7 linked regions of the Homo sapiens genome follow. The protein of the gene in region 2 purifies or fractionates together with the protein of the main gene of each other region. This does not show direct contact. Each region holds a gene or a part of one and is shown on either strand. Other genes may lie near its edges.

Evidence for each region.
Region 1: the proteins of SLC39A10 (region 2) and GLB1L2 purify together in Homo sapiens (affinity purification with mass spectrometry; one large-scale study listed by BioGRID and IntAct). This does not show direct contact.
Region 3: the proteins of SLC39A10 (region 2) and KCMF1 purify together in Homo sapiens (affinity purification with mass spectrometry; one large-scale study listed by BioGRID and IntAct). This does not show direct contact.
Region 4: the proteins of SLC39A10 (region 2) and WDR3 purify together in Homo sapiens (affinity purification with mass spectrometry; one large-scale study listed by BioGRID and IntAct). This does not show direct contact.
Region 5: the proteins of SLC39A10 (region 2) and UXS1 purify together in Homo sapiens (co-immunoprecipitation; 2 studies listed by BioGRID and IntAct, with this or other methods). This does not show direct contact.
Region 6: the proteins of SLC39A10 (region 2) and SCARF2 purify together in Homo sapiens (affinity purification with mass spectrometry; one large-scale study listed by BioGRID and IntAct). This does not show direct contact.
Region 7: the proteins of SLC39A10 (region 2) and ITFG1 purify together in Homo sapiens (affinity purification with mass spectrometry; one large-scale study listed by BioGRID and IntAct). This does not show direct contact.

What each region holds. Positions count from the first base shown.
Region 1 is NC_000011.10:134,330,609-134,334,787, reverse strand, and holds the start of GLB1L2 (beta-galactosidase-1-like protein 2 isoform b precursor), read right to left. Parts: upstream 2,801-4,179; 5' UTR 2,727-2,800; coding exon 2,641-2,726; intron 1-2,640.
Region 2 is NC_000002.12:195,674,226-195,677,725, forward strand, and holds part of SLC39A10 (zinc transporter ZIP10 precursor), read left to right. Parts: intron 1-1,236; exon of another isoform or gene 1,237-1,496; coding exon of another isoform or gene 1,497-1,509; intron 1,510-3,500. UniProt on the Homo sapiens protein: Zinc-influx transporter. When associated with SLC39A6, the heterodimer formed by SLC39A10 and SLC39A6 mediates cellular zinc uptake to trigger cells to undergo epithelial-to-mesenchymal transition (EMT).
Region 3 is NC_000002.12:85,023,161-85,026,660, forward strand, and holds part of KCMF1 (E3 ubiquitin-protein ligase KCMF1), read left to right. Parts: intron 1-3,500. UniProt on the Homo sapiens protein: E3 ubiquitin-protein ligase which accepts ubiquitin from an E2 ubiquitin-conjugating enzyme and then transfers it to targeted substrates, promoting their degradation by the proteasome.
Region 4 is NC_000001.11:117,932,739-117,936,238, reverse strand, and holds part of WDR3 (WD repeat-containing protein 3), read right to left. Parts: intron 2,952-3,500; 5' UTR 2,920-2,951; coding exon 2,749-2,919; intron 1,767-2,748; coding exon 1,557-1,766; intron 1-1,556. UniProt on the Homo sapiens protein: Part of the small subunit (SSU) processome, first precursor of the small eukaryotic ribosomal subunit.
Region 5 is NC_000002.12:106,093,302-106,096,801, forward strand, and holds the end of UXS1 (UDP-glucuronic acid decarboxylase 1), read right to left. Parts: coding exon 3,417-3,500; intron 857-3,416; coding exon 725-856; 3' UTR 10-724; downstream 1-9. UniProt on the Homo sapiens protein: Catalyzes the NAD-dependent decarboxylation of UDP-glucuronic acid to UDP-xylose. Necessary for the biosynthesis of the core tetrasaccharide in glycosaminoglycan biosynthesis.
Region 6 is NC_000022.11:20,435,026-20,439,049, forward strand, and holds the start of SCARF2 (scavenger receptor class F member 2 isoform 2 precursor), read right to left. Parts: upstream 2,801-4,024; 5' UTR 2,730-2,800; coding exon 2,557-2,729; intron 1-2,556. UniProt on the Homo sapiens protein: Probable adhesion protein, which mediates homophilic and heterophilic interactions. In contrast to SCARF1, it poorly mediates the binding and degradation of acetylated low density lipoprotein (Ac-LDL).
Region 7 is NC_000016.10:47,454,564-47,458,063, forward strand, and holds part of ITFG1 (T-cell immunomodulatory protein isoform 1 precursor), read right to left. Parts: intron 1-3,500. UniProt on the Homo sapiens protein: Modulator of T-cell function. Has a protective effect in graft versus host disease model.

The sequences.
Region 1 (4,179 bases), on a different chromosome or scaffold from region 2:
AAAGAAGCCAGACCAAAAAGGAAAACATGCTTTAAGATTACAATTCTATAAAACACTAGAAAATGCAAACCAATATATCGTGTCGGAAAGCAACAGATCAGTGGTTGCTTGGGGCTGGGGAGCAGGGAGGAGTAGGAGGGAGGGATGACAGAGAGGTACATGGAAACTTTGGGGGCTGGTGGCTGTTTTCACAATCTTAACTGTGGTGATAGATTCACAGCTGGATTTAGATATGTGTCAAAGCTTATCAAATTGTACATATTAATTAAACTCCAATAAAGGTAATTTTTAAGAAAGACCACTGTTTACGCTTAAAAAAAATAAAAATAAAAATTCTAAGACTGAAATCCTCCCCAAAAGTCAACCTGGTCATCCTAGTCTTTTGATATGATGTAACCCACCAGCTATGACTGACCGTGAACCAGCCCAAGGAAAAGTTGATGAAAAAAAAGAAAAGCTATAGCCAAACATCCCCCAGCCCATGCCAGCCACTGTCCAAATACCTGCCTTCTGCTACAGGAAAGGGGCTGCTCCTGACAGCTCGGCTCCACAAAGAGTGAACTTGGTGGCCAGTTTCCACGTGACCTATATTCCACTGGCCACCTCAACACTGCCCAGTAACAGCTGGGAGAGGCCCCACCTCCCACTCAGTTAATGACCCAGTCAGAGCTGGGGCAAGACAGGAAGAGGGAAAGACAAAGAGGATGTTCTCCTCCTGCCTCCAGAGATATTACAGCAACTCATACTCACTGGTGTCCAGCCCAAGTCAGACAGGAGGAACTGGCAGAATGTACCCATGAGGGTGAAAAAATCAAAAAGATGCCAAAAAGACACGTATTCCACAGGATCTGAAGACACGGCCCTGAACTTGGTTCAGAGCTCCTTGAGCTTCTGTTCTACCTGCTAGAAGGATGGAGAGGCAAGAAAAACATCCTTCCCAGGCAGGCCAAACTGTTTTCACAGAATTTGGTTGCAGCTCTTTATTCTCTGTTGCCATTCCACCTGCTCCAATGGCCCAAGACTGACTCCTAGTGCGGTCACCCCACCTAGGTGGGGACACAGTTACCTCACCTCAAAGAAGCTCAGGCGTCTTCCCAGCTAGGTCAGCTCCCTGCCACCTCACCTCTGTCCCACCAAACAATAACAAACCCTCAGCCTCCTTCGCATACCTTTTCCTGGGGACTTTTTGGGTGTACCACTCAGCCCATCTCAAGCCCACAGTGCTGCCCCAAATAGTGACCTGCCTGGGTCCCCTGCACGGACTCCTGTATCCCTGACCAACAACAGGCCTGCAGCCGCTAGCCTTTCTCTTGGCAGCTTGCACGCCTTGCTACCCTGCTGTATGCAGGAGGATCTGCTGCCGCTGCTCTGAGTAATTCTTCTGGGGTTTGCGTAAGCCTTGCACAGGGAGGAAAGCTGAGCATCCCACAGGAGCCAGGGCCAATCTTCAGAGAGGAATGGCTTAGAGATCTTAGGCAGGACAGAAAACATCTTGGGAACAACCGGAGAAGTTAAATGCCTGAAGTTTTCTGGGCCCCAGAATGAGAAGAAAATCCGTCCTTCTCCCAAACAATATCATGACGTCCCCACTATCTCAGAAACAAGAATCCAGTCTTGACAAGGTGTAAACATAGAGTTTGTCAGTGTGTTCTTCTGGCCACAAAGGACTTCCAGATATTTATCTCCATCAAAAACTTCCCTGTCTCCCAGGGGAAGTGCAGAGAAACTAAGAACTTAGTTTCTCTAAGTAAAAAAGAAGCAAATGACAAAGCCGAGCGGCGTAGGGCCTGCCACCACTTCCAACCGTTCAGTTCATTCGATACTGCCGGTCGGCTTCCCACTGGAGGTTTTGAATATGGAAAGTGCTGACCTGAAAGATAGGGTCAGGGCTGTAGAATCCTTAAAATAAGCACAGTTTAGAAAAATGCTGGGCTAGGGCACCCAGAAAACTTTTTCACAGGCTGTGGGTAAATCACAGTATCACTGAAGCCACTCCTTTGCCATAAACAACATTTGGAAAAGGGGGAGAGGAAAGGGTGAGCTGGTAACAGGTGAATGGTGGGAAAGTGGAGAGAGACGACCTATCAGTCCTACTGTGCAAATAAATCATGGCCCGGGATCTTGGAGGCCCACGGACACTGTTCTTACGACCCTGCCAGGCCAGCTGGCTAGACCATACCTGCCAGGCTGAAGCGCCGGCCTCTGCGGAATAAGGCGCCTCCCAGAGGCTTGGGAGGAAAAGGGGGGCCTGGGGGAAGGGCAGAGGGAGCTCTCCGCGGAGCAGTGGGGACGGGGCCGCGATGGGGTGCGTCTGAGAGGGCTCTGACGGCTGGAGGGCTGCGGGCGTCCACGGGGGGCAGAGCCCGGCGTCACAGGCGCGGCGGGGTGGGCGGCTCGGGGCACAGACGCCGGCTCCCGAGGGCACGCCGGGTGTCGCCCAGAGGCCTGGATCGCGCGGCAGGAGTAGAGTGCCTGCAGCCGCAGGGGAACTCGGGGGTATTGGGGAGCTCCCAGAAAGAAGCAGCTGGGGCTGCTCCCCCCGGGAACTCGGGATTCGCGGGTCGCGGGAGGAGAGAACCCGAGGTGCGGAGGGCTGGGGAATGTGGGGTCCGGCAGGTGCTGCGCGAAGCTCTCTCTCACCTGCGGAGCACCAGGAAGCCCAAGACGACCAGCAGCAGGAGTCCCAGCGTGCGGGCCGGCCTCCGCCGGAGGCTCCACGTGGTCATCGCGTGTTCTCTAAGCGCGGGGACCCGGGTTCCCACTCCAGTCCGCACTCAGCCGCGCGCGGGAGCCTCGCCGCGGGGGGCGGAGCCGCGCACTGGTCGCCTGGGCAACCGGCCCGCCGGCGCTCATTGGCTGGGGCTCGCGGCTCCGCGCCTGCAGCCCTAGGCCTCGCGCAAGCGGGGGCGGGGCTGGCCGGGGCCGGGGCGGGGCCTCTGTCGGGGGGGGGGCGGGGCGGGGCTGGTGGGCGGGGACGAGGTCTCGGTAGGAGAGGGGGCTGGCGGGGGCGGGGCTGGCGGGGCGGGGCCCCGGCCGGGGGCGGGGCGGGGACAAGGTCTCGGTAGGGGACGGGTCTGGCCGGGGCGGGTCCCCAGTGTCGTGGAGCGGTGCAGAGTCCGCCGTCTTTCTGCTCGCGAGGCGCAGGCGGGTGCGGGAATGCTGCGTACCTGTCAAACGCCGAGGTAAAGTCGCCCCTCGCAGCGCTACATCAGGAAGAACGTACAAAAGGCGTCCGCAAAGCAGGGGCAACCAACAGAATCTTTTAAAACAATTCAGATTCTGAAGCAAACAACTTTTTCAATAACAAATCATCCTGTGAAAAGCCAGGATTTTGAAGAATTGTATCTGGACACATTTCAGTGTGGTTCATGTCTGAGGAGGGGGGGTTCCAAATATTTTCTGTCTTTGGTTTCTGCGAGTCTTACTCTGGCCTTGACTCCAAGGGCTTCCAATTTTTTATTTTAAAAAGGTCCATATAAAACTCTCACATTTTAGGAAAGGAAGAATATCATTCTTATTCTGAAACAGAATGTATGTCCCAAAGAACATGATGTAGTATTTCGGTGCAACTTACACTGTAGCAATCACAAACCCAACTCCTCCCGGGAACAAAATTCAGATTTTACTGAAAGAAACTCGAGGAAGGGCAACGTTTTCCAGAGCATCCGGGTTTGTCGAATGTCTCCCTTGCCGCATGCTTTGAATTCATTTCCTAAACGGGGGCATAGTTTTGAACTTGTAAAGCCGACAGGAACCAAATGAAATTGCAGATCTTGGAACAAAGACACAGACTTGGGTATGAAGTGTCCTTTGTCTAGCGTTAAGCACATATTTAGTCAAGGAGCAAAAGTTAAATCAAAGAGAGGCAAAAACAAACGAACAAACAAGAGGAAAAAAACCCTGGCAGAACTGGGGAGGATAAGCTGGGCTTGGAGCAATCCGGGTCTGACTTAAGCACCGCAAACATTCCCAGAGGCGCGCAGAGGGAGGCCCACTCCCGTGGACGCGCTCCAAGCCCGCTCCTTTTCTCCATTGGGTAAGGCTATGATTGCTTGATGGCTATGAAGTCTGTGATGGAAACATGTTGGTTTAATTGGAATATACCAGCTAGCCCCGAAGCGTGTGGAGAAATTGTCAAAGGCTAGCCCCTTTGCCTGCAGGGGACCATCCGAAAGACAT
Region 2 (3,500 bases):
CATTTAGGTTGTAGCAGGCAACATAATGGTTACACAGCTGACCACTTTTCCTTATTTTATTTTATTTTTGAGACAGAGTTTTGTTCTCGTTGCCCAGGCTGGAGTGCAATGGCATGATCTCGGCTCACTGCAACCTCCGCCTCCTGAGTCCAAGCGATTCTCCTGCCTCACCTTCCCGAGTAGCTGAGATTACAGGCACCCGCCACCAGGCCTGGCTAATTTTTGTGTTTTAGTAGAGATGGGGTTTCACCATGTTGGTCAGGCTGGTCTTGAACTCCTGACCTCAGGTGATCCACCCGCCTCGGCCTCCCAAAGTACTGGGATTATAGGTGTGAACCACTGCACCCGGCCTGCTTTTCTTTATTTACCTCCTTTTTTCTTGAGGCCTCTTATTCCCCCATGTTCTGTGAGTATTGCCTCTCCCACATACAGTCATATGCATTGCTTAATGCTGAGTATGTTCTGAGGTGCAGGCTTAGGTGATTTTGTCATTGTGTGAACATCATAGAGTATACTTAGACAAACCTAGATGGTGTAGCCTGCTATACACCTACCTATAGAGTATAGCCAGTTGCTTCTAGGCTACAAACCTGTTGATATACTGAATACTGTAGGCAGTTGTGATACAATAGTAAATATTTGTATGTTTAAACATAGAAAAGGTACAGTAAAAATTCAGTATAAAAGATTTTAAAAATGGTACACCAGTGTTGGGCACTAATATGAATGGAGCTTGCAGGACTGGAAGCAGCTGTGAGTGAGTCAGTGAGTGGGCAGTGAGTGAATGTGAAGGCCTGGGACATTACTATACACTACTGTAAACCAGTGATTGGCTTTAGCATGGGCATGTGGTAGAGACCTGACTGATCAAAGATACGTAAAGAGAGGCTTGAGGGAAATATTTTTCTCCCTGGATAAAAAGAGAGACATGAAGATGAACCTTCCATCCAAACAAGATTTCTGAGGAGGAAAAAAAATAAAAATTGTATTTTAAAAAAGATAAATCTTCCAGTTTTGAATATGATTATGCAAGGTTATCTTGGGACTCTGAGGGTAAATTTGAGCGTGCTTGGATTTTTGGTACTGTCCTAGAATCACCCATTTCTCCTGACTTCTTTTTATGTGAAAGTTTTCCTCTGTTTTACCCACTTTGGTTGAGTGTTCTGTTATTGCAATAGTTCACATTAGAAAAACATTTACAATATTGTAATAAGGATTCTCTTTTTTTGAGACATAGTCTCGCTCTGTCGCCCAGGCTGGAGTGCAGTGGCGTGATCTCAGCTCACTGCAAGCTGCGCTTCCCGGGTTCATGCCATTCTCCTCAGCCTCCCGAGTAGCTCGTACTACAGGCGCCCGTCACCATGCCTGGCTAATTTTTTTGAATCTTCAGTAGAGATGGAGTTTCACCGTGTTAGCCAGGATGTACTCGATCTCCTGACCTCATGATCCACCCACCTCGGCCTCCCAAAGTGCTGGGATTACAGGCGTGAGCCACCATGCCTGGCCCCAGTAAGGATTCTTGAATGTGTCTTTGCGTGCCTAAGTGCAAGGGTAATTAAAATGGAACTTGGGGGCTGTAGAGTGTGTTCATATTTGGCTGTAGTAAATGTCAAGTTGCTTTCCAAAATGGCTGTACCAATATATACTTCCACCAGACGCATAAGGTAGTTTGTTTCTTTATATTAGACCTTTACTTAACATCTAGTATTGTGAGATACTAATTTTTGCCTGTTACTGTCTTAGAGCCTTATCTAGATTTGAATTGCCTAGATTATTAGTCATCATGTTGCTGTTTTACCAACCTGTTTTATGTTCTTTTCATAGTTGTCTATGTAGTAGTGGAGTTTTTTTATTACTATATGTGCTTTATATACTCTGGATACTGATGTTTTATATACATTGTTTATATATACACATTGCAAATATCTTCTAGTATATGGCTTGCTATAAGCTTCCCCCTCCCCTGCCGCCACCGAGACAGAGTCTTGCTGTGTCTCCCAGGCTGGCAGGCTGAAGTGTGGTGGCACAATCTTGGCTCACTGCAACCTCCACCTCCCGAGTTCAAGCAATTCTCCTGCCTCGGCCTCCTGAGTAGCTGGGATTATAGGCGCCTGCCACAGCGCCTGGCCTATAAGCTTTTTTTTTTTTTATAGTGTCCTTTATTATAGAGTATTTTTTAAAGAATTTAGTTAATCAAAAATTTTCATCATGATATGTGCTTTGTGTCTTGCCTAAAAAATATTTCCCTATCCCAAAGACATAAAGACATTCTCTTACATTTTCTTCTAGAACTTGTTGATAATTTTGCTTTTCACATATAGGTTTTTAATGTTCTTGGAATTGACTTTTGTGTGTAGTGTGAGGAAGAAACATTTTCACAGTCAATATTATTGATGCTCTTTCAGAACTCTGTTCCACTCCACTGGCCTATCTACCCCTGTGCTAGTTCTATGTTATTTTCGTTAGTATAATTTTATAAAAAGAAGTCTTTAATACCTTGCTAATCTTCTGAATTGTCTTGATTGTCCTTGGGTTTTTGCTTTTATGAGTTTTTGAATGTGCTTATGAAGTCTCACCAAAACTAAACAGCTACCAGGATTTTAACTGGCATTGAGTTAAATTTGTATATACACTTGGGAAGATTTTATGTACCTTATGCAGTATATCCCATCTATTCATGTAGATGATGTGTTTCTCCAGGTTTTTCAGTTCTTTGCTGTCCTTCAATAACATCTTAATAAGTTTTTCCTTTTAGTGGTTTTATATGTCTTGTTCTAATTAATTCTAGAAACCATACAATGTTGTTTATAATTACATTTTGTGATTGGTTTTCAGTGAAGAAAATTTGATTTTTATAAAACTTTGTATTGAAATAGACTGTGTTCAGAAAGTACACAGAGCATAAGTGCCATGAATTATCACAAAGTAAACATATTTACATAACTACTACTGATATCAGGAAAGACCATTACACTTTGCAGTCCCCTCCATTCTGGTCTTCTCCCAATTATTACCCTCTATCTCTCTTTCAAAAAGTAATCATGGCCAGGTATGGTAGCTCACACCTGCAATCTTAGCACTTTGGGAATTTGAGTTGGGAGGAGTGCTTGAGGCTAGGAGTTTGAGACCAGCCTGGACAATAGAGCAAGACCCCAAAAAGAAGAAAATTAAAACTGAGCGTGGTGGCACACACAGCTACTTGGAAGGCTAAGGTGGGAAGATCTCTTGTGCCTGGAAGTTTAAGGCTCCAGTGAGCTATGATTGCGCCACTGTACTCTAGCCTGGGTGTCACAGTGACATCCTGTCTCAAAAACAAACAAAAAAAAATCCACAAAGTTTAGTTTTATTCCTTTTTACCTTTATATAAGAATTATACTGCTTTCTTTGGTGTTTGTCATTTTTTTCCCAATATTTGTGAAATTCATCTATGCATGAAGCTGTAATTTCATTTTTATTCCTGTGTGATAGATTTTTCTGTTTCATTTATCATTTTGTTGTTG
Region 3 (3,500 bases), about 110 Mb from region 2:
ACAGGCGTGAGCCACCGCGCCCGGCCAATACTGTATGTATTCTTTGAAATTTCCTTTCACTCATCTGAGGCAGATGTTCTTACCGTTGCTGTGATTCATTCTTTTTCCAATTCATTCTGTGCATATTGAACTGTTGAGCCTTTGAATCTGAATAGCCTTTTTTTTTTTTTTTTTGAGACGGAGTCTCGCACTTTCTCGCCCAGGCTGGAGTGCAGTGGCGCGATCTCAGCTCACTGCAAGCTCCGCCTCCTGGGTTCACGCCATTCTCCTGCCTCAGCTTCCTGAGTAGCTGGGACTACAGGCGCCCGCCACCACGCCTGGCTAATTTTTTTTTGTATTTTTAGTAGAGACGGGGTTTCACCGTGTTAGCCAGGATGGTGTCGATCTACTGACCTTGTGATCCGCCCGCCTCGGTCTCCCAAAGTGCTGGGATTACAGGCGTGAGCCACCGCGCCCAGCCCCTGAGTAGCCTTTTTAAAATTCAGTTACAAAAACTGCCGTCAACATTCTTCCACATTCTCTAGGTGCACACAGACAAAAGATTCCCTCCCCGGGAATTTATTTAAGAGTGAAATTACGGTATCATAGGAGGTATATGTGTTTAACTTGACTAAAAATATGAACAAATTTTTCAAAGTGGTTGTGCTGATTTACACTCCTACCAGCAGGGTATAAGCACTTCTGCTGCCCTTTATCTTCACTAACACTTGATATCATGAAACTTGTAGTTTCTTACCGGTTTGGTAAATGTAAAATGCTAGCTCACGGATGTTAATCATGCACTTCTTTGATGACTAATGAGATTGAGCATCTTTTCATATGTTTACTGGCCATTTATGTTTGTTGTTCTTTGAGTGCCCTTTGACAGGTTTCTCCATTTTTCTACTAAGCATTCATCATTTACTTACTGATATGTAAGAGTTCATAATGCATTCTGAATACCAAACTTTTGTCTGTCATGTATGTTGTACATATCGCCAGTTTCTGAACCTTATATTTTCAATCAATGTAGGCTGTGAAAAGACGAAGAAAAAGGCCGAGCGTGGTGGCTCACGCCTGTTGTAATTCCAGCACTTTGGGAGGCCCAGGCGGGCAGATCACCCGGAGTTCGAGACCAGCCTGGCCAACGTGGTGAAACCCCGTCTCTACTAAAAATACAAAAATTAGCTGGGCATGGTGCCAGGCGCCTATGATCCCAACTCCTTGGGAGGCTGAGGCAGGAGAATTGCTTGAACCCAGGAGGCGGAGGTTGCAGTGAGCCAAGATCTCACCATTGCACTCCAGCCCCGGCGACAGAGTGAGACTCTATCTCAAAAGAATAAAACAAAAACAAAAGATGAAGAAAAAGTCTTAACGTAGTTGGACTTATCTCTTACTTTTTGATTTGGAGAGTGAGAGAGAGAGAGAGAGAGAGAGAGAGAGAGTGTGTGTGTGTGTGTGTGTGTGCGCGTGTGTGTGTGAGAAAGAGAAAGATTTAAGAAATTGTTTTCTACTTTAGACTCATAAAAATATTCTATATTGTCTTCTAGAGATATTTTTCATTGTTCTTTTGAATCCGTCTTTAAACCATGTGGAATTGATTTTTTGTGTGTATAGGATATGGGGAGAGATCCAATTCTGTTTTCCCCACATGCAGATAATCACCTGTTCAGCACCATTTATTGTCCATTCCCTTTTTTTCTCAGTGCTCTTTAGTGACCTTGCTGTTGTAAAACAGATTTCAACATCTGTTTCTGGTCTTTCCGTTCTATTCCATGGGCCAGTTTGTCTCTACCCTGGTGCCATTCCATCTTACTGTAGTTATTATAGGTTTATTATTTGTTATGGTGTTACTTATTATTTATTAGTTTAGCTCTTGATATATAAAACAAGTCCCTCTATCTCATTTTTCTTGGGAGCATCTTGACTCTCCTTGGCCCTTTTTGTAACTTGCATCAACATTTGAGTCAGCTTACCATGCCCCACAAAAAAATTCTTTTTAAATTTTGGTTATTAATTGTATTGAATCCACAAATCTGTTGACATTTTATTATGAACCTTCCAGTCCATGAAGTTGGTATTTATATTTTTTAAAGTCCTTTAGTGTCTTTGAATACATTTTTACTAATTTGCTTCATAAAGGGCTGCCTATCTTTGGTTAGATTTATTCATAGGCACTTTTTTAAAATGCTGTTGCAAATGGCTTATTTTTTTATTGCAGTAAAATATACATAGCATAAAATTTATTTTAACCCCTTTTAGGTGTACAGTTCAGTAGCATTAAGTATATTCACATTCTTGGAACCATCACCACTGTCCATCTCCAGAATTCTTCCATTATCCCAAACTTGAAAACTCTCTACCCACTAAACCGTAACTCCCCGTTCTCCCTTTCCTCAAGCTTCTGGCAACCACTGTTCTACTTTCCTTCTCTTTGAATTTGGCACATCTCGATGGAATCACAAATGACATTTTTTTGGTTTTTTGAGATAGGAGTCCCGCTCTGTCACCCAGGCTGGAGTGCAGTGGCGCAACCTCAGCTTACTGCAACCTCTGCCTCCTGGGTTCAAGTGATTCTCTTCCCTCAGCCACCCGAGTAGCTGAGATTACAGGCACACACCACCATGCCTCACTAATTTTTTTGTAATAAATGACATATTTTTAATAATATGTTTTTCTGTCTGTTTTGCAGTGAAGAAATACAATCAGTACTTTATTTAGGAGGTCTCTATCTAACAGCTTTGCTTACTGCTTCTAATAACTTAGCTGTATTTGGGTTTTCAGCATAAACAAGCAGATCACATGTGAATAAAACTATGAAACCCACCTACAGAATTTTAAATTTTAACTTTTTTAAAAATATTTTTTAAAGACAGAGTCTCACTCTGTCGCCTAGGCTGGAGTGCAGTGGCATGATCTCGGCTCACTGCAACCTCCGTCTCCTGAGTTCAAGCCATTCTTCTGCTTCAGCCTCCCAAGTAGCTGAGATTACAGGCGCCCACCACCACGCCCGGCTAATTTTTGTATGTTTAGTAGAGATGGGGTTTCACCAGGTTGGTCAGGGTGGTCTTGAACTCCTGACCTCAGGTGATCCGCCCACCTCAGTCTCCCAAAGTGCTGAGATTACAGGCGTGAGCCACTGCGCCTGGCATATTTTAACTTTTTTTTTTTTAAACAAATACAAATGAGATCTCTCTATGTTGCCTTGGCTGGTCTTGAACTCCTGGCCTCAAGCAGCCCTCTTGTCTTAGCCTCCCAAAGTGTTGGAATTACAGGTGTGAGCTATGGCACCCAGCCCTGTTCAAGCTTCTTTCTTTCCTTTATTATTATTATTATTATTATTATTATTATTATTATTTTTATTTTTTCCAGACAGGGTCTTGTTCTGTTCCCAAGCTGGAGTGCAGTAGTTTGATCATGGTCACTGCAGCTTCGAGCTCCTGGGCTCAAGCATTCCTCCCACCTCAACCTTCCAAGTAGCTAAGGCTACAGGCACAGGCCACAATGCCCAGCTAATTTTT
Region 4 (3,500 bases), on a different chromosome or scaffold from region 2:
TATTTTTAAAGTTTTGGATTCATACTATCAAAATGATCTCCAGGTTGGGTAAATCTATAGAACCAGCAGGGATATGTATGACAAGGCCTGTTCCCCATTCATTTAACTCTATTATTAGTTTTCTCAAAAACTACTACAAATATCATAAGTAAAAAATGTTCAGTCTTAATATTTATTTTAATTTACATTTTTTATGAATACAAATGAGAAATATTTTACATGCTTTATGGTGATTATTGGCCATAAAGTATCTCTTTTGAATTGCCAATTCATGACTTTCTTTTGTCTATCATTCTTAGAGTGTCATCTCTTATTTGACTGTAAGTTATTAATAGATGAATGATACTAATCCTTTCTTTTTATATTGAAAATATTAAATATTTTAACTTTTTCAGTGTCCTCTGACTTGTTTTTAATGTACAAATGTTTCAAGTATTCCAATCTACCAACAGTTTCCTTTTTTAATTTATTTCTTTGCTAATAAAGTCCTTTTCTACCTTGCTATCGGATATTTACTTACATATTTTCTAGTTTACTTTAAAATGCTATTTTTTAATAGTTAAGTCTTTAATCTTTGTTTCATTTTGGTATATAGCATGAGGTAAAGCTTTAATTTAAAAATTTCGCTCAAATAGCCAATTGTCTAAGGACTGTTTTATAAGTAATCTATCATTTTTCTACTTATTAAAATGTCGTCTTTAAAATATACTAATTAGGAATGTAATCATGGATGTGTTTCTGAGATTTCCATTTGGTTGCAATAATCTATTTTGCATTGGTACTTGCATTGAAGTATCAATATGATACTTCTTAAATTATGGGTTTATATGACATTTTAATATCTAAAACCCCTGTTTTATTATTCTTTTCTTCCCAAATTTTAGTGTTTCCAATTCCTTTGCTTTTCCATATTAGGTCAAGTTCTAAGTAACAACTAAAACCTTTAAGATATCTATTTAAATATATCTGTATCTATATAAACATATGTCTAAACATAGCTTTAGCTATATAAATCAATTAGAAAACACTACCATCTTTTCAATACCTTGTCTTCCCATTCAAGAACATGGATTATATCTCTATAAAAGTCTTCTATTCCATTCTTCAGTAAAGTTTCATGGTATTTTTATGTCTGTTACTTAATCTGTTGTGAATGGAATCTTTTATATTTTCTAACTCATGACTTGTGAGATACAGGAAATTCTACTGACTTTACAGAAGTCAATGGCAAATAATTATTTTGTCTCTTCTTTTCCAGTCTTTGTTTTCTTTCCTTATTTTACTGTTTTGCGTAGCACTTCCACAATAAGAGTTATCATGGCTCTCTTCATCTTATTCCTACACTTAAGAGGCTTTTATCAGAAAATATGACAAAATGAACAAAAGGAAACAAAATGAACCACCCAATTCACACCCATCCTCTTCACTCTATCATTATACTACTTTGTATATTGACAGCCCATTGTTTTACCTGACAATTTTTGTCAACAACTTGCTTCAGCATAAGCCTTACATTCCTTTAATAGATCAAAGCCTGGGCTGATTCAAAGGCTCACCTTGGACCCAGATGCCAGTCTGCCTCCTAGCTGATCATACTTCAAGGTAGTGATAGCTGCTTTGTGACCATTGAAGGTCACATTTCCTTCCCCACTCAGGAGACTGAAGATTCGGATCGACCCATCCTCATACCCAACAGCTAAGTGTAGCCCATCTGGGGAGGGGCATAAGCAAGTAACTTCTTGTTTAAGCCCCTGAAGGATAAGAATCTGAAATCATAAAAATTAAAAACAATGTAGAAGAGTTAAGCATGAACTCAAGGGAAAAGCATAGGAATACTCAGGCACAGTAAAATTAAGAGCACCAATAATTCCAAATTACTCTTATGAATAAAAATGAAACTCCACAATCCATTTCAAGTTTTTTAATATAGAAATTAGTATTTGTACTAGGCAATGAAACATTTAAGAAAAGGCTTAATTATTTTCTCCAAAGCCCTACGTTGTTGTAATACATATAAAAACTCCCTAGGCAATAAAATAAATTTAATCCCTTTAATCTAATTCTTAACCCTAGAACAACACTACGTGATTTTCAATAAAGGTTTATAAATTCCTTTAACTGAGACCCATTTTATAAGAAAATAATCTGTGTGGCAACAGAGTACTGCAGTGGTTTTAACCACAAAGGACTCTTGGTGGCAACAAGAATCAAAGTACTAACCTCTTGGGAATCACAAAATGAATGGACAATATCAAAATGCCTATATTTGGTTTGGCAAAAGTGGTAGGCTTAGGGAATTCAGTCACACAAAGTATCAAAGTCTACTTTAACAACACTTGGGCATTATCCATATTAGAAAAAGATTCTGCCAAAATAGACTAACCTTCCTTTTACATGCCTAATATTTTATAACCAGCTATAAGCATAAGTCGAGCTTGAAAAATAGAATTGGTAGAGAAAAAATACATCAGGAATAAATAATTACTGCAAATAATGACCTGTAAATATTCCAACAAATAGACATCTAAGAAATAAGCTCCTATTTCATTGTGGTTTTCAGAATTCAGTGGCGAAGAACACAAAGGAACTTGATGCTTGGCTAGCTAGACCTAAAGGAAAAAGATTTTTCTTCTAAGGGCACAGACACAAAAAAACTCATGATAAATAAATCAGAGCCCCCCCACTTCTACTACCTCTCCATCCTCAAATACCAATAAATCAGTATCAAACTGGTCATTTTAGGCTCACCTTCTCTCCTTTCCTTAAGTCCCAGATGAAAACGTGTTCACAAGCTGGTACTGCCACATAACGTCCTTTCTCACCACGAAGTGTCACAAAGACAATATTACCTTTTTGGCTGCCGATAACGCCAAAGACCGCACTAGCAACATAGCGTAGGTACTGCTTGGTGAGCCCCATGTTGTGATGTCTGATACCACAGGTGAAGCAATCTGTGCATATAAACAAAGAAAACTCAGCTCCTTGGGTGCCTTGGTTCTACTAGGTTAGTAAACACCAACTGTTTTTTTGTTTTTGAGACAGAGTCTCACTCTGTTGCCCAGGCTGGAGTGCAGTGGTGGGATCCTGGCTCACAGCTGACTCCACCTCCTAGGTTCAAGCGATTCTCCTGCCTCAGCCTCCCGAGTAGCTGGGACTACAGGCATGTGCCACCATACCCGGCTAATTTTTTTTTTTTTTTTTTTTTTAGTAGAGATGGGGTTTCACCATATTGGCCAGGCTCGTCTCGAAAGCCTCACCTCAAGTGATCCATCCGCCACGGCCTCCCAAAGTGCTGGGATTACAGGTGTTAGCCACTGCGCCAGAACAACACCAACTGTTGATCATGTCATTAAAAGCATGTAACTTGTGACTTCTTAATCTTTATTTACTCTAAATGAATCATTGACCTAAAATACCTGGACATCATTTTTTATTCAGTGTTGACTCAATATAATCCCTCATTCCTCAAGTTCCAAATTAGTCACGTTGTCATGCCCACC
Region 5 (3,500 bases), about 90 Mb from region 2:
GTCCATGACTGGTGAGTTTCAATAATTTATTAAAATAGCATATTTAACCATGGTTAACCAAGAATATGTTAACTTTGTGCCCCCCAACCTGCCCCCGCCCCAGATACGCAGCAAAACACAGTAGTGATTTCAAATATCCTTGATCATGACCAACAGGAATATTTCAAAGTCAAGTTTGCAACTCAAAAGTAGACCTTGGAAAAACTCTGAATTAAAAGAGAAACATAAAGCTCTCACACAGAATTCTTTTATCTGCCCTAAAATCAATGCCGGCGCACCACCACCTGACAATACTGCTAGGATTTTTCTTTATGCATAGTATAACGACTCATTTATTAAGTACCCACTTTCATAAATAAAATCGGCATTTTTTGTCCCGCTTAATGTTCCTTTTCAGCTTCACAAAGAAACCAGTAAATAAAACTGTCAACGACAGTCACAACATATGCTCTCACAGCAAGATAAAAAAACTTGAAAATACGCAGAGATGCATCTACGCTATTTTACATAAAAAGAGAGATTCAAAAAGTGCAAGGCAAAATCTGCAGTTTTTTGAGGGGAGCTTTTAGGCACATCCATTTCATTAAAGCAAGCTTCAGAATGAAATTCCAGTTTGTTCTTCATGACACCTGTTAAAGTCTTTCTTTAAACGACAACAAAAAAAAGCCAAAAATACATCCCATCAAGTGTACAATGGTAGTCTTGTGTCCTAAAAGTGAGGAGTTCAGCTGTGGCGAGTCCGTCCTTTCTTTATTCTGGCAGGCTTTGGTTTGGGGATGTACTGATTATTTGCCTGGTACTCGAGTTCTTTACGGAAGTAGTGAATTGCTTTGTTTAAACCTTCCTCCAGCGGGACCTGTTTAAAGGGAAAGCAAGAAAGGGAGACAAGGTCACATTGACAGAAGGGCATCGCAGGAAGGAAGTGCCACCTTGCAGGAAGGAAGTGCCACCTTGCAGCCAGTCAGGCCTCCTTCAGAGGAACACTCACAGAACCATGCTTTGGTTGTGACAGCATCCAGCATCACGGCCCACCGAGAGAAGCCAGAAGTCCTTCAGGGCCGCTTTCAGAATGTACTGTGGAGCTGACAAGTGTCACTCTTACTGACGTAAAGTGAGCTCCACCTCACAAAAGACCCCGACTACCTCTTGCTGGTATAATGTCTACTCCAGTTTGAATCGGCTGGCAAGATTGTTTTTCAGATAATGCCCATGTGCCCCATTCTTTCAGAAGAAATCCACCTTGGAGTGGCGGGAAGATGCTTTGGGAAGGTGATCTGCATCTGATCAACACGCCTGATTCTCCCACGTGACATCAACCCTTTGCACTGCCTAGCGGATCATGGCCCACTTGCACCCCCACCATACTAAGAGGCTGAGTCTGAGAGGGGACCCACGGCAGCCCACACCACAGAAAGCAACCTTCATCTGAAGCTGCTTTGCAGCCAACAGGAAACCAGCCAGATCAACTGCTGATTAACAGCAGAAAGAGAAAAGGTGAAGGGAGGCACTGCTAAGGGGTGCTGGGGCACCACTGGGGGAGAAGGTCTGTCAGCTTGACTGCAGCGATGGTTTCACAGGTGTCAAAATAGATGAAAACTTATCAAATTGTATCTTCTAAATATGGGCAGTGTGCAGTTTGCCAATTATATCTCAACAAGCTGTTAAACACACACACTTGGGACAATTAAGATGGATAATGCCTGTAAGTTTCTTTGGATCATATCCCTCAAAAATTTATTATAAATTAAAACTACTACTAGAAGAGAAACCAGTGGTAGATGGCTCACATTCCAAGAATGTTAGAATATTATAGGTCTAAATTCCAGAAAGATAAAGATACTGAGCATACACACACCTCACATAAAAAGCAATAGTTAATACATAGTGAATGTATATTTAAATCTTCAAAAAATATTTTGTTTAAAAATATAGGCTCTCCTTACAAAGGGACCAATGGCCCCTTACAAAGCTTCAAAAAAACAAGAAACCTAGGCTGCTATAACCTGTTTTGCACAGCTTGGGATTATTCGATTTTGTGAAGTCTGGGTGTAATTGTATTTTTATTTCACTCAACAAATTTCTGCAGTTTTTAGCAGATTACGTAGACTTGTACATGACAGAATGAAATAAGGATCAGGCTGGAACTCTCATGTCCCTTTGAAGTTCAATATTCTAGGATTCTACTCACTCAGCTCTGACTATGCACATTTTAAAAAGGTAAACTGAGCTCTCAACTGCGTCCCTGACTCTCTGACTGCGCCACAACCCAAGGGCCATGCCAAGATGCTCCTACATTTGTTGAGCACCCAGTGTGTGTCAGGTCTGACAGGTGCCGGGCTCCTGCTGGACACAGGGCTACACTACACGCCTCTGCCCGAGGGGAGCCCGAATTTCAGTGGGGCACATGAGGGTGGGCAAAGAGGGAACAGCCAGGCAGAGGTGACAGTAAATGAGGTGGGCTTGCTTCTATAGATGGGGCCAACCCAGCCAACCTCCCTACACAGGTGGTCTCTGAAGGACACAGGCAGCCCTGAGGACGAGCGTTCTCTGGCGGGGAGGAGCCTGCAGTCACCCAAGGCAGGAAGGGCACAGCAGGCGGCAGAGCAGAAGCAGGCGGGGTTCAGGCTCAGCCCCAGGGAGGCAGCAGCCGCCCCACCCTGCCCCCTTCAGTAGACACACTGAAGACAACAGGAAGGCATGCAGTTCCCCTTCCTCCACACCCTTCAGTCTCGCACGCTTCCAACCAGGGGCTCCACTGCGGGGCTGATGGGGACCACTTGCCCCTGACCTGGCCCCGCACACTCAATAGGCAGGCAACTGGGGCTACGCAGGGCTCTGAGCGTGTGCTGCCAGCGCCCTTGGCACAGCGTTCACAGTCAGGGGTGTGTGTGTGTGTGTGTGTGTATGTATGTGGGAGAGGGAGTGTATGTGTGAATGTGAGTGTGGATCAGTGAGTGTGCGCATGTGAGTGAATGTGAGAATGTGTATGATAGTGTGAATGTATATGTATGTGTGAAAATGAGTGTGTGTGAGTATACTTGTATTAAGTGTGTTTGTATGACAGTGTATATATGACAGTGTGAGTGTGTGGGAGACAGTGTGAGTATATGTGTGTACAAGTGTTTGTATGGCAGTGTATGTGTATGAGAGAATGTAAGAATGTGTGTGTGCATGAGAGATTTTACGAAAACAGAGCCCAGAGCAGGGGCTTCCAGCCGCTTCCCAGGTAACATTCTCTGAGACTCCTGATACAGGAGAGGCTGTTTACCACTTGGAGAAAACCCTCTATCTGCCTGGATGCCGAGCCCACCTTGCTCCTCCGGGGGCTGTCTGACAAGGGTCAGTGCCTACAGGACAGCAGACACAGGACACGGGAGGCCCCTCCCCACAAGGCAGCATTAACTCCCTGCACTTACCACGGGCTCCCACCCCAGCATCAGCTTTGCTTTTTTGATGTCTGGTTTTCTTTTCTGTGGGTCATCCTGGGCTTCGGAGAGAAA
Region 6 (4,024 bases), on a different chromosome or scaffold from region 2:
CTCTCCCCATCAATGCTAGACTTGCAAATCCAACTGCCCAATAGATGATGTCACCAGAAGGAGACCTCATGGGCCTCATGCCCAACCAGCCCAAACCTGAACTCTTGACCTCCTTGCACCCTGAGTCTTCCCTGCCTCAGATAACCCTGCCTGTCCTTTCAGGCTGGGAAGCTGAGACCTGGAGAAGCATCTCTGACTCTTCTTTCTTGTCTACACCAGATCCATTGAGAAAAAAGACGCTGAGCTCTAGCTTCTAAACGATATCTAAAATGGGATCACTTCCTCCTTCCCTATCCCAGCCTTGTGAGAGCCACCCTCCATCTCCCTGGCTTTTTGTAACTGGCCCCAGCTTCCACCCCCTGCCCCCCAGGGTGCGAAGTGTTTGCCACCTGGCAGCCAATCCTGGTCAGATCCCACCCTTTCTCTGTACAAAGCCCCCAGGGGGTCCCATGGCCCTCAGAAGAAAAGCCCAAGTCTTCTGAGCAGTGGCAGCCCACGGTGGCCTGCCCACCCTCACTCTCTGGCAGCTCCTCCGCCAGCCCCTCCTGGACTCTGCCCAGCCTCCTGGATCCTTCCTGTACTTCCACAGGCCCTCTGCCTTGGGAACCTTGCCCCAGACACCCACAGGGCCTCCGTGCTCTTCTGCAGGCCTGTGCTCACTCACCACCTTCTCAGCCGTTCTCCTCAGAACACCCTAAAGGAAACAGCACTCCCCAACCCAACACCTCCCAGCTCTTGCTAGATGTCTAGACACACTTGCTTTTCTGGACTGTGTCTCCTCTGCCACAGGGTCAGGGTCTCCACTGCAGCTTCCCTACACCAATACAGGCCTGGCACAGTGTAGGTGCATAGGATTTTACTGGCTTTGCACTCTCCTCTCCCCATCCTCCTGCCTCCCAGGAAAGGGAAGGGCTGATGGAAGCCTTGCAAGATGTGGGAGGACAACAAAGACATGACCCAGACCCCAGGTGGGCAGTGCCCAGAGTGGCTGTCCTTCCCATCGACCCTTGCCACTCATGACCACAGCGATCTCCACTTAGCCCCATGAGGGGGTTGTGATCACTATCCCATTTTACAGAGGTGGAGACAGGCCCAGAGAGGTCAAATGACTTGCCCAGGTCCACACAGCTGGGTAGGGTGGCACCAGGATGGGAACCCAAACCCAGGCTCGGTTCCTGGAGCAGGCGCCTCCTGGGAGGTCTGCAGACCAGGGGAGCGGGAGCAAAGGGCTCTCAGGCTCCGGACAGCTAGAGCCTGGCACCGGACCCCCATTCCTGGTCCCGGGCCTGTCTGGGAAAGAGGGCTGGAGTGAGTAGACAGAGACCACGGCGATCGCGCCCTCCCCCTCTCCAGGCACCGCCCCGCCCGCCGCCGCCGCTGCATTCCTGGGGCCGGGGAGGCCCGGGAGTCCGCGGCGGCGGCATCGATGCGAAGCAGATGGCGGGCCAGGCCGGCCCCCGCCCCGGAGGCGGGGCTCGCAGCGGGGAGGGGTCTGCGCGCCTCCGGACCAGAGTTCGGAAACCCCGCGCTGCCCCCTCGCAGCCCCTTGTCTCTGGCGCCGAGCCCCTGGACTCGGCTTGCCCCGGGTCCGTGGCTCAGGCGCCCCGACGCGACCCAGCTCGGAGCCCGGCGGCCGCCTCTGCGGCTGCCAGCCCGTGCGGCGTCTCCAATCCGCGCCAAGGCGCCCCCACACGCCCGCTCCTCACCCCTGCGTGGAGATGCCCTTGACCTTGTGGCCTTTGGCCAGCCCACCGGCTCCCCCGACCCCAGCTCCTAACTCCTGGCGTCCGGGGCTCACCTCTCTGCCCTCCGTGCAAACTCCCGGACTCGCCCCCCCACCGGCCGGGCCTGTCGCCTGCCTGTCCCACACTGGCTTCCCCAGCCGGCGCCCCACATTTGCGCGGCCCCTTCTTGCACCCAGAATCCCCACCTGGTTGTCGCCAGGGTTCCCACATCCTCCGGTCCCCTGTGCCTGTCATAGTCCTTCCGCCTCCCGCTTCTGGTCCACTTCGAGCGCCGGCTCCTCGACGCTCGCCTGGGTCACCACCCTCCCACCCGCGCCCGCTCTAAGACGCGAATCTGTCTTTCCAAGTCTGGCTTGCTCCAGGACCTCCCCGGCTAGCACCGCTCCTCCTCCCCTGACCTTCCTCCTCACTCCCACTCCCGGCTCCAGTCGGACTAGTGCGGGGCTTTAGCACATGCAGTTCCTTTGGCTTGAATGCCCTTCCCCAGCTTTTCCCCGTGGACTTCACAACTCGGTCAAGGGTCCCTTTTTCCAGGTCTTTCCTGATATCCCGGACAACGCGTGTCATCCCCTGGGTGCCCACGGCACTCCATCCTCCCCTCAGGTGACTTCTCGTCCAGGGTTCCCTGGGATGCACTGTCGTGGCCCATGGCCGAGGCTGGGCCTGGAACGGAGCCGCGCTGGCTAGGGAGCCGAAGGGGCCCACACTTGGCGTAGGAAGGTTCCGGTAGCCCCCTCCCAATGCCCGGCGCCGCCACACCACTGCCCAGAGCGTCCCTCTCGCCCCCTCCCCCAGCCAGGCCGGCTCCTACCCGGGAGCACGGCACACGTTGCGGCCGCGAGGGTTCAGTTCCTGAGGCGCCACGGTGTCCGGCAGCATCCAGAGCAGCAGCAGCAGCAGCAGCGACGGCAGCAGCGGTGACGGCGGCCCCCCGGCTCCCCGGCGCCGCGCCGGCCCGGCCCCCCGGGGCCCTGCGCCCTCCATGAGGCGCGGGGCAGGCGCGGGGCGGGCACGGGCGCGGGTGCGGCCGCAGCGAGAGCGGCCGGAAGCGGAGTGCGAGGCCGGGCGGGGGGCGGCAGGAGGGGCGCCGAGCCGGGCAGGAAATTCCACATCGGCTCCCTGATCCCGGGCCAGCCGCGGCCGGCCAGGCGGCAGCGCCCGCCCCGCGCTCCAGACCCCACCCTCCGGCCTAGCCACCGCCCCTCCGCGCAGCCCCCGCCCCCATTTGGCCGCTCGCAAACTTGGGGGCGAACTTGGAGGAGGCCCGCCGAGCGCTGGTGGAGGGAGGGTCCGCCCGAGGAATCCCCGGTTCCCGCGCCTTTCCCTCCGCTCCCTAGACATCTACCGAAGCAGCCGCCCCTGCGCGCCCACTGCGTAGGCCAGGCCCGGGACGGGAAGGCGGATCGGGGACACGGACGCGACTCCGCAAGCCCACCCCCGCTCCCAGCGCCTCGGAACCGGCCAAGGGAGTGGGGCCCGCAGACAGCCCAGGTCGAGGCCGAAAGCCAACTCCACAGCACCCCACCGCGAAGTCCTTGTAGTGCTGGGGTGTGCGGTCAGCTCCCCCTGCGCACTCCTGCGCACTCAGAGCTCGCAAGGGGCGGACCGAGCAGGATGCTTGAGGCCTGTGGTAGACTCGGTCCGGACCAGAGGCCTGGGGGAAGGGGTCTCCGTAGGGACGGATGGGAGAGATACAGAGGAAGTAGAATGGCCAGGCTGTGGACTGCGGTAGGAAGTAGAGGTAAAGACAGAAGGAGACCCCCGGGATGGAAACCCTGCAGTCCTAGTTGAGGAGTGAAGGGGGCTGGGGGAGCCTGGGCGGTGGATTCTGCTGGCTGTCGGATTTCCAGGAGAGGCTGGGGCTAGAGAGTGGGAACTCCTGCATCAGGTAAGGTGGGTAACAGCACAGAGCAGAAGGAAGGTGTGGGAAGGGAGCAAGACAGAGGGACAGGCCCTAGGGAGCCAGCGGGGAAGCTGGACTTGGACTGGGAGGCAGCAGGGTGCGGGTCCCCGGGGGGCAACTGGGGCAGACCGACTCTGGAAGTTGGGCAGGGAGCACAAATGTCCCGTGTGTAGCCAGGTCCTAGTGAGGATGTTTGTCTTTTGGGGACTTGAGAGCTGGCAGAAGGCCTAAGCAGGGAGCGGGCACCTCCGTTCTTTGGGGAGCAGGCCACATGCGGCCCACAGGCTCACTGAGGGAGGGCAGGCAGACTCTGTCCAGGTGTGGCCAGATAGCCCCGAAGGGTGGGGCTGGAGGAGGGGGCTTGGAGGAGGAGCCA
Region 7 (3,500 bases), on a different chromosome or scaffold from region 2:
TATAAAATATTTAGTTTGGATTTTAACATAAATTCAAAATTTACAGTAAAAATTAAAAGAATCATTTTATTTCTGAAAGCTAGTAAATTAAGAATGGAATTTTTTTTAACGAAACTTGGCAATCAATATAGCATCCAAACATATATATCTAACTTTATATGTATATTTTTATTTTTTCCTTTTCATAGGTATTGATATATTTTTATTAACAAAATAATTCTAAAATTATTTATATGAATCTTGAAAGCTTAACGTCCTGCAGTCTTATTATCTGAGCGACCCAAGCAAAAATTAGGCCTTTAATTCATTTTATACTTAATTCTACTCAGATGAAATAGCAAGACAGCAAATTTCCAATTAGACTATAGATAATTACTTTCTTAATGCATCAGTGGTAGTTCTTTCTCCCTCTCACTCAGCAAGGTAAGAACCAAGTGGTGTATTTCTGGAAAGTCTCAGGAATTAAGGATTTAAATTACAGTAATGGGTAAGGTTTTGGCCTTAAGCTAGACACAGGAGTTAACCAAAAGTCTACAAAAGGAACAATTTAACCCTTGCCCACAGCTCTACCCTATTTCTAGAATGTTAGTCTGTCAAGAACATACATGCAGGGCAAAAGATAGTAGACTAGTCCCACTAGGCAATACATTTCCAATTATTTCTTTTGCACCTTACTTGAAAATGTGAGTAGACACCTGCCTTCTGAAGAAAACTTTGACTATTAAAGAGAGCTAAAACAAATAGCAATAAGGAACCTGAAGAAAACAGAACTAATGCAACAAAAGAAAACTTCAAAATTACACTTAAGAGAAAAAAGTCTGTCTATAAAAAAAAAAACAAACCAACAACAGTATGCTAAAAGACAACATCAGTAAGAAAACAAAAGAAAAACCTCGGAAATTAAAAATGTGACACCTGGCTGGGCGCGGTGGTTCACGCCTGTAATCCCAGCACTTTGGGAGGTGGAGGTGGAGGTGGGTGGATCACTTGAGGTCAGGAATTTGAGACCAGCCTGGCCAACATTGCAAAACCCTGTCACTATTAAAAATACAAAAAGTAGCCAGGCGTGGTGGCGTGCATCTCTAATCCCAGCTACTTGGGAGGTTGAGGCAGGAGAATCGCTTGAACCCAGGAGGTGGAGATTGCAGTGAGCCAAGATTGGACCATTGCACTCTATCTAGCCTGGGCAACAGAGCAAGACTCCATCCCCCACCAAAAAAAAAAAAAAAAAAAAAAGGACTTAGAATTTAAAAGAGAAAGTTGAGAAAACCTCCTGCAAAGGAAAATAAAACAAAACTAAATGATAAAAATAAGAAACAGATAAGATAAAGGAATAAAGGATGAACCCAGGCAGACTAATCAACTGATAGAAACTCCTAAAAGAGACAAAAAAATTTTTCAAAGAAATATTTAATAATGTAAGAGTATTTCAAAAAGCTCCCAAGGATAGAGGCCTCTAGCTTGAAAGGGCCCACATAATGCCTAGCATAATAAGTAAAGAATAATCATTCCTGTAATTGCAGCACTTTGGGAGGCGAAGGTGGGAGGACAGCTTGAGCCCAGGATTAGGTGCCTACAGTGAGCTATGACTGTGTGACTGCACTCCTTTTTCACCTGGGTGATAGAGAAAGACCCTGTCTTTATCAAAAAAGAAAAACAAATCTATACCAAGGCACATCATCATGAAATCAGAACAAAATAGAAAAAGAAGAGACTCCAATAGCTTCCAAAATTAAAACAATTTACATTTAAAAGATTAGGAGAAAGAAGAGGGTTGAATTTTAAAACTGCAACCCATGAAGCTAGAACACAATAAGCTAACCAAACTTTTAAGAGTGGGTAGATGCCGGGCGCGGTGGCTCATGCCTACAATCCTAGCACTTTGGGAGGCCAAGGCAGGTGGATTGCCTGAGCTCAGGAGTTTTGACACCAGCCCGGGCAACACGGTGAAACCCTGTCTCTACTAAAATACTACAAAATTCGCTGGGCGTGGCGTTGTGCACCTGTAGTCCCAGCTACTCAGGAGGCTGAGGCAGGAGAATTGCTAGAACCAGGGAGGTGGAGGTTCCAGTGAGCTGAGCTTGTGCCACTGCACTCCAGCCTGGGAAACAGAGTGAGACTCTGTCTCTAAAAAAAAAAAAAAAAAAAAGTGGGTAGAAAAACTTTTTGGATGTGACAGGACTTATCAGGCATCCTTTCTCAGGAATTTCTGGAAAGACACACCCCCGTGAAGTAAATGAGGAAATTTCTTTTTTTACATGGGGAAATTCCCCACATAGTAAGTCTACAAAAGGCCTGGAGAATGAATCCAGACTGGATAGGAATGTAGAGGATCCAATGGGAAAAACAAAAATGCAGGATAGGTATATGGCAGATATGATGGAATATCTGCAAAGAAATTAAGGGTATGTACATAGAAAACTATGCAATCTATTTTTTAAAAAGCAATCATTTATTCCAGTAGGGCAAGCTGCACAAAAAATGAAATACTGTCCCAGCACTTTGGGAGGCCGAGGCAGGTGGATCACCTGAGGTCGGGAGCTCGAGACCAGCCTGGCCAACATGGTGAAATCCCATCTCTACTAAAAATACAAAAAATTAGCTAGGCATGGTGGCAGGCACCTGTAATCCCAGCTACTTGGGAGACTGAGGTGGGAGAATAGCTTGAACCCGGGAGGCAAAGGTTGCAGTGAGCTGAGATGATGCCAAGGCACTCCAGCCTGGGCAACAGAGTGAGACTCTGTCTCAAGAAAAAAAAAAAAAGAAAAAGAAAAGAAATACTGTACATTACTTGGTTCTGAAGTACATAGACACCACATGGTTAAAAGGTAAACAATGATTACTAATTTAACAAAAAATTATGATTTAATTACACTGGGACAATGTAGATAAATTATGTTAGTTAAAAAACAAGAATTGAATATTTAAAAATGATAATTCAAGAAAATTAGTGTAAAATTTTATTTTAAAATATGGTAATAAACACTAGAAGAATCAGCTACAGGTTTTAAAAGTGGTTGCATCTGAGAGAGAAACAGGGGTGTGGGGGAGAATAAGGGTGAAGAATAGTTATTTTTACTTTGAAAAATATTTTAAATTATAACACAAACAAGAGTTTCTAAATTTTGAAAGTGCATTGCATTAATAAAAAAATTAATTGGGATATTTGTTTTAACTTATCAGAACACATGCCATTTACATCTTTTAAATTTCCTTAATTTCTAATAAAAAAAAAATCACCTCTATGCAGTTAGTTCACTTCTCATATACACTCAACTTCAGTTTCTTCCCCACTCCAAGCATGCTGACATTCACTACCCAAAAACACTTCTCAAGGGAAATAAGTTCCTGTTTATCCATTTATAACTTTCCCCTCAAAGTTCTAGTTCAAGGCCATTTTTCTTTTTAACATGAGTTTGAGTTTACTCAAAATACTGTAGAGTCTGAGAACTAATCAGCCCACACAGGGACTTTTTAAATACAGCTTCCTAAGTAGTCTT